Linked DNA regions of Homo sapiens. The main gene of each other region encodes a partner of the protein of the gene in region 2 in a complex. Each region holds a gene or a part of one and is shown on either strand. Other genes may lie near its edges.

Region 1 (3,824 bases), on a different chromosome or scaffold from region 2:
GCAGGTGCCTGTAATCCCAGCCACTCAGGAGGCTGAGGCATAAGAAGCTTGAACCCAGGCGGCAGACATTGCAGTGAGCCGAGATCGCGCCACTGCACTCCAGCCTGGGTGACAAGAGCGAGACTCCGTCTCAAAAAAAAAAAAAAAAAAAAACTTTCCTTTTTAAATTACCTAGTCTCGGGTATGTCTGTATTAGCAACATGAGAACAGACTAATACAGTGAGGAAATGAAAAATCACTCAATAAATGAAGTTTAAATACTTGTTGCTCTTTGAGAAACATAACGTATACTCGTCTTCACATAGTACACCAAAATAAATTCCATATACATTAAAGATATAAATTTTTTAAGCCATTAAAAGTACTAGAAGAAAATTTTGAAGAATATCCTTGTGAACTTGAGTTAGGAAAAGGCTTCTTAAATAAAAAACCAGAAGCAAAAACCATAAAGAAAAACAACCAACACACTTAATTATGTCAAAATGACAAAGTATTATACCAAAAAATGCTGTAAATAAAATTAAAAGATAAACCAAAAGCTAGGTGAAAAATACAGTGAACATAAGTATAATGATCTGTAAACAGAGTATGTAAAGAATTCCTACACGGGAAATGCCAATTTTGAAACAGCGATAATTAGAGGGAAGGAAACTTGTGTTATAAAGGGGAAAAATGTTTGTGGAGGCTTTAGCTCAACTTAGAAAGCTTTACACTCAAACTACCATAAAGCACCTGAATTTTTTTTTCAAAAAAGAAAACATGTTCATACTCTACAAGTATAACTAAAACAAATTTTAAAACCACAGGCAGTTGTCCCTTGGTATCTGCTGGGGACTGGCTCCAGTAGAACGTATCCAGATATCCAAGACTGCCCCAGACAACAAAAATCCCAGGATGCTCAAGTCCCTGATTCAAAATGACACAGTAATTGCATAAAACCTATGGATATCCTCCAGCATACTTTAAATCATCTCTAAATTACTTATAATACTTAATAAAATGTAGATGCTATGTAAATCGTTGTTATACTTATTGTGTTTTTTATTTGTATTATTTTTCCATGTTGTATTATTTTTTCCCAAGTATTTTCTTTTTTTTTTTTTTTCCACTTTTTTTTTCAAGGTGACTTTAAGATTCTTTCCCAAATATTTTTGGTCCACAGGTGGTTTGAGCTGTGGATGCAGAACCCACTAAACTATAGCTATCAACTTTATAGACTTCTTTCAAAGACAATATAGATCTAAACTAGATCTCTCTGATTTCCTAGCATCATTTCAAAGCATTGGCTTAGGTCAAGTAACAACAGGCTTCAGCATATTAAACAATATTTTCCCAAAATCCATTGTTATGTAAATTGATTCTTATAAGTGTTTCTTCATTGAAAACAGTACCAAGTAAATCATATTGTCAAAAATGAGATTCTAAAGACAGTATCTATTCTGGTCAAACAGGTTAAAAGTCCTCAAAAATGTGAACACACAGGTGGTTTGAAATAACAGGCAGGTGGTTTCAAACCTGTGGGGGGAGCGGGGTGGAGAGGCGGGAGATGTTTTGTGTTTTTGTTTGTTGAGACAAGGTCTCCTCTGTCACCCAGGCTGGAGTGCAGTGGTACAATCACAGCTCACCGTGGCCTCAACCTCCCAGGCTCAAGCACTTCTCCCACCTCAGCCACCCGAGTAGCTGAGACTACAGGCGAGCATCAGCACACCCAGCTAATTTTTGTATTTTTGGTAGAGGTGGGGTTTCACCATGTTGCCCAGTCTGGTCTCGAACTCCTGGGCCCAACGGATTCGCCTGCCTCAGCCTCCCAAAGTACTGGGATTACAGGCGTGAGCCACCGTGCCCAGCTGATGGTACTTTCTTACAGCAGCCCTATCAAATTTACGTATCTCATCTCCTACATAAGAGAGAAACAAAGAAATCAAACAGGAACTATCTCAACTTTCTCTCTCCACATGTTCATTGACAGCAACAACCATCCTTAACTTCCTCTATTCTGATGGAAGTGGGCTACAGCTAATCCTTCCACAGGGTACTTTAGTCCCCATTCCCTCTGGCTTCTCCAGAGAAACCTTAGTTAATGAACACTTTTCCTCTCTAATGCCTTTTTAACTTCTGTCTATAATACATCTTGTTTCTTAAGCACTCCCAATTTTTTGACACTCTCCTCTCTTGGTTTCTTTATATCATATGCTCTTTTCTTCTAACCCTCCTCCTTCTTTGTTCGTTCCTCCCTTAAATGTTTCTGATCTTCATCCCTATGTTATTCTCACACTACAATATCATCCTTAAGAAATCCTTTCTCCCTGCCTCCACCAGCTTAAAATAACATATGTACAACAAAGACTCCAAATTCACTACTTCTCCAGTACTTTTTTACTTCTCCTTTGAGAATCAAAACTATGTATCCCACTTCTGGACATCTTCACTTATACTCCTCACATGCACCTCAAATACACCATGCCCCCAAACTGAACTCCGTATCAAGGTCTCCCCATTCCAAAACCAAACCTGCTGCTGCAGGGGAAAAAAAAAAAATCAAAAAAAGAACATGGTAGTGGACAACATCTATTCACATGAATAACATCAGCTGCTCAAGCCAGAGCCTGAGAGTCCTCCCAAAATCTTCATACTCCATATACACACATATTATCAAAACAATACAATTCCTGTTGCTTTGATTTCTAGGTACCTCTTAAATTGATCCTCTTCCTCCATTCCCACAATTATTACCTTGGTTTATGCCATCCTATCCTACCTGAATTAAAACAACTTTCTAACCTGACTGCCTGCCTCTAGCCTCAGAGTCCTGTATTAGTCCATTCTCAAGCTCTATGTAGAACTACCCATAAGACTGGGTAATTTATAAAAGAAAGAGGTTTAATTGACTCACAGTTCTGCAGGGCTGGGGAGGCCTCAAGAAGCTTACAATCATGGCAGAAGGGGAAGCAAACACATCCTTCTTCACATGGCGGCAGGAAGAAGTGCCAAGCAAAGGGGGAAGAGCCCCTTACAAAACCATCAGATCTAGGCTGGGCGCGGTGGCTAACGCCTGTAATCCCAACACTTTGGGAGGCCAAGGTCAGTGGATCACTTGAGGTCAGGAGTTCAAGACCAGCCTGGCCAACATGGTGAAACCCTATCTCTACTAAAAATACAAATATTACCCAGACGTGCTCACTTGAACCCAGGAGGCAAAGGTTTCAGTGACCCAAGATTATGCCACTGCACTCAAGCCTGGGTGACAGAGCAAGACTCTGTCTCAAAAAAGAAAAAATAAAATCGATCTCGTGAGCACTCACTATCAGAACAGCATGGGGTAACCGACCCCACGATTCAGCTACCACCAGGTCCCTCCACAACATGTAGGGATTATGGGAACTACAATTCAAGATGAGATTGCTGGGGACACAGCCAAACGGTAACAGTCCCCAGTCAGTGTTTTTCAAACTTAGAATTATGACCCAATAGTAGGTTGTGAAATCAGCTTGATAAGCTGCAACCAAGCTTGTTTTCTTGTTTGTTTTAAATGAAATAAAATCACTACATACCCTGAGCCAGAATCACCCAACACACTCTTCATGAAATCTGAGATGTTTGTTTTTCAAATCCAGTAAGTTCTGAAGTAATTGTAATGCAACAAGAGATAACAGTATTGTTTTCTGCAATGTTTCAGGTGTGCATATGCATGCACATGTGCATACTGGATCACAATATAAAATGTACTTCTTGGCCAGGCACAATAGCCTGTGCCTGTAATCCCAGCACTTTGGGAGACCAAGGAAGTAGGATTGCTTGAGTCCAGGAATTCAAGACCAGCCTGG
Region 2 (3,428 bases):
GTGGCCGCTGATGCCTGCTCCAGGTGGGGTGGTGGTGGCCATGGGCTCTGCGAATCCCAGGCTCAATGGCAACACTGAGGTGGGAGGAGGGGAAGGGACACTTGCTGGTGTCTGGCTTTCCTCTTGGGCATCAGCTTCCAGCCCTTCAGCCTCAGCTCACCAACTTCCATGGGTGGGCCCTGCTTGACTCCCCCAGCCTGTCAGCGTGTCGCCTCCCCTCTGCCACCCTGGGCTGCTTCACAACTCAGGACCGGATGTGAGCTATTAGGGAACCAGGCTTCCTGATTTCCAGAGGCCATCAGTGTGGAAGGGTGCAGGCCTGGGAGCCACCTTTGTGAGCAGGCAGGGAGAGCAGGTGGGAGTGTGAAGCCAGCACCGAGGAAGGAAGCAGAGCTGGGAAACGGTGTTAAGGGACATGCGTGCATGCGCGCGGTCCACGGCCTAGGCTCTGCCTTTGGGCCCTACCCACCGACTGTGTATGTGAGCCCCCACATTTGCATTTAACAATTTAACACCAGGCACCTGTCTCCTGCAGTGATGCAGGCTCGGGACCTCCAGAGCAGCGGGCAGGATGACGCCCTGAACCTGCACTTCATCTCCTGGCTGCTTTATTCTGTCAATTGACTTCTGTAATACAATTTCCATATGGTGACACTGCCTTCCAAAACAGTTAGAGCTTATTCTCAGTATTCTTCATTGGCAGTGGAAAATGCTTCAGTACTTTATTGAAAGAAAGCAATAAATAATACTGTGATAAAAATAGTTCAAAAGTAGACTGTACATACTTTGTTACATAATCAGGAAGTTGACAAAAGATTAATAGAAAAACAGAACAGTAACAATGAATTGTACAAGTAAATTAAAAGCAGAAACCAACTGAAAAGACAGGCTGCCTCTGTCTCTGGATCTGCTGCACAATAAATACCACGCCATGGTCTGACACACTTTGCTGGCTTGTTAATATGCCATTTAAAAAGTAAAAGCCACATCTGCAACTTACACAATCCAAAATGGCTAGAGCATCAAAGTCTAAAAATGTCCCACTAGGTTCGTTCTTTAAACATGTTTACAAACAAATGTAAAAAGATGATTTACATAAGAAAAATAAGGCCTTTATTAGAGCTGCACTGCACTGCTTTCTGGGTCTCCTGCCTTCATCCACTGTGTGCGCCGACTTGCAGGATGAGAGCGTGGTGCTTGGTGCTGGCCCTAAGGGGAGCCACATGGGTGTCTCTCCACCCGCTCCCAAGGAGCAGAGGCAGGGAAGAGGGTGCAGGGGCTAGACTGGTCCCCAGGTTACCCCATCCCGAGTCTCTCCAGCTGAGAGAACTGCTCCCAGCTCACAGTCTCAGCCACTGAAGACAAGCTCCCCAAATCCAGAGACTAGGCTAGGAAAGCGTTAACCAGTGCTAGGGGCTTCTCATAGTGTTGTGATAGTGTTTTCAGTCCACATCTTATTAGGAGCTGATATTTAACACCAGCCATTTTAAATCTGTTCATGCTGCAGAATAAAGCATCTCTTGCTAGAAAAAGTACAGTTAAGGTCAGTCATGAAAATACAACAATTGCTTGAAATTAGGTATGCTTATTTCAGGATGATTGCTGTAGAGCTAGGCTGCGTCCGTAAAGGATAATGCACATGGCTTCTGTCATAATTTTATAAACGTAAAATCCTTTGTCATGGTTTATCATTAAAAAATTAATGATAATTACAATAAATGCATAATTTACAAAAGCCCTCTATTCATAGGATTTATACATACAAGCATTACAGTACATTCATTTGAAAGACTAAAATTAGGTATAAGAACATGATTTGAAAGGATATTTATAGCCTGGATATACATGAAAAAGTAAGTAACTATATAAATGAAGAGTCATAAGTTTACATAAATATAAGAAACATTAAATTCTAAAATATTTTCTCTATGGTATTCATGAATTTTTCACTAATTAAAAACTCTGTAATAAAATATCTTAGGGTCCATATAACAAGTATTAACAAGATTAAAGATTCCACTGGATTCCAAAATGTAGTCTTTGTTGGATTCAAATGCTGCATAATCATCTGTAGAAGTAGTGTGGGTAAACTGGAAAATAAACACAAACAAAAAACCACTCAGTACAGGCCGGGCCATACTGACGAACGGGAACTTCTGATGCTGGGGCCCAAACGTCCCCCCGACACTGACCCCTCCCCTCCAGGACCCCTCACTTTCTGTGCCGTAGCTGCTCTGAGAATCACTGGCTAGAACATCAAGGGCTATGCACATCAATGAGACAGCTCCTTGGCTGACTTCATTTTGGCTTACGTCTCCATGTTACCAATTACAAATAAAAGATGAACAAACCAGTCAAATATTCCAACGGAGACCTTAAAATTGCTTAGAACAGCAAGGAGAGGGCGGGCCACTCACCAGCCAGAGTCCGCAGTTTTAAGAACCAGTCTCTCCAAACTGAAAGGCTATTAGTGTCACACTTAGTATAATATATAATTAACCACAAAACTTTGGGCTTGTTTCATTCAAGAATGTGTATTTAAAACAAAGCAAGCTTAGGAATCACAGCAATGTGCATAACGACGTCAGGAGGAGAGACTCTCCCCTGACGCTCTCTGCCATGCTCTGCTCTCCTCCCCACTCCACCCCCATGACATCCACAGACAATTAAAATGAGTCAGCATTTTCAGGTTTAAGGAAAAGGTGAAAATACATTTTTTTCCTTAAAAAAAGAGGACACACTAACCTCTTTATGATCAATTGTAACAACAAAATGATCTTAATGGGTACGGAGAGCTTGTGTCTATATATATTTTAAATTCCCCAAAAACTGCACTGGCTTTCATGGTCCACACCCCTAGTCTGGCACTGCAGCTCCGATGACTCCTGCTGTGCCTCTGAGCCATCTCTAGGGGTTGTGGTGCTCTCTACTCACCAACAGGAGACTTTAGCAGGAGTAAGTCCTGACTGTAGCAGAATCCAACCTCTGTGTTCCTGATACATTGCCTGTTTCAACAGCCACGAGAGGAAGCGTGCAAACACAGCGTGCAGTTAGTCTTAGAACATCACATGAGGGCACAAGTAGACACACATCTTCACACCTACAGCAGTGCCTACGGAGGGACCTGAGGGGAGCTGCCTGAGTGGGCGGGATGGAGCCAGAGAGATCCAAGTGTCACCCAGTGGTGGCTCTCCCCAGCTCCCAAAGAGCCCCGGGAGACTCTGGAACACTACTCCGAAATACCAAGCACCAAATGGTACAGTAACAATTTCAAAATGTACATCTGCATAAATGACCCCTACTTAGAGTGATCCCTTTATCTCTTACTAAACTCTGCATTCATAGACCAATGGGGCTTTCTCCCTGCCCTAAGTGCTCCATCTCTAACACTGGTATGAAGGAAACACCAAGCGGCACTGCTGATGCTG

The links.
Region 1: PPFIA1 (region 2) and ERC1 share a complex: the UniProt entries of both Homo sapiens proteins name them as parts of the cortical microtubule stabilization complex.

The regions. Positions count from the first base shown.
Region 1 is NC_000012.12:1,022,124-1,025,947, reverse strand, and holds part of ERC1 (ELKS/Rab6-interacting/CAST family member 1), read right to left. Parts: intron 1-3,824. UniProt on the Homo sapiens protein: Regulatory subunit of the IKK complex. Probably recruits IkappaBalpha/NFKBIA to the complex. May be involved in the organization of the cytomatrix at the nerve terminals active zone (CAZ) which regulates neurotransmitter release.
Region 2 is NC_000011.10:70,381,665-70,385,092, reverse strand, and holds the end of PPFIA1 (liprin-alpha-1), read right to left. Parts: intron 3,006-3,428; coding exon 2,947-3,005; 3' UTR 2,935-2,946; intron 2,091-2,934; coding exon of another isoform or gene 2,065-2,090; 3' UTR 697-2,064; downstream 1-696. UniProt on the Homo sapiens protein: May regulate the disassembly of focal adhesions. May localize receptor-like tyrosine phosphatases type 2A at specific sites on the plasma membrane, possibly regulating their interaction with the extracellular environment and their association with substrates.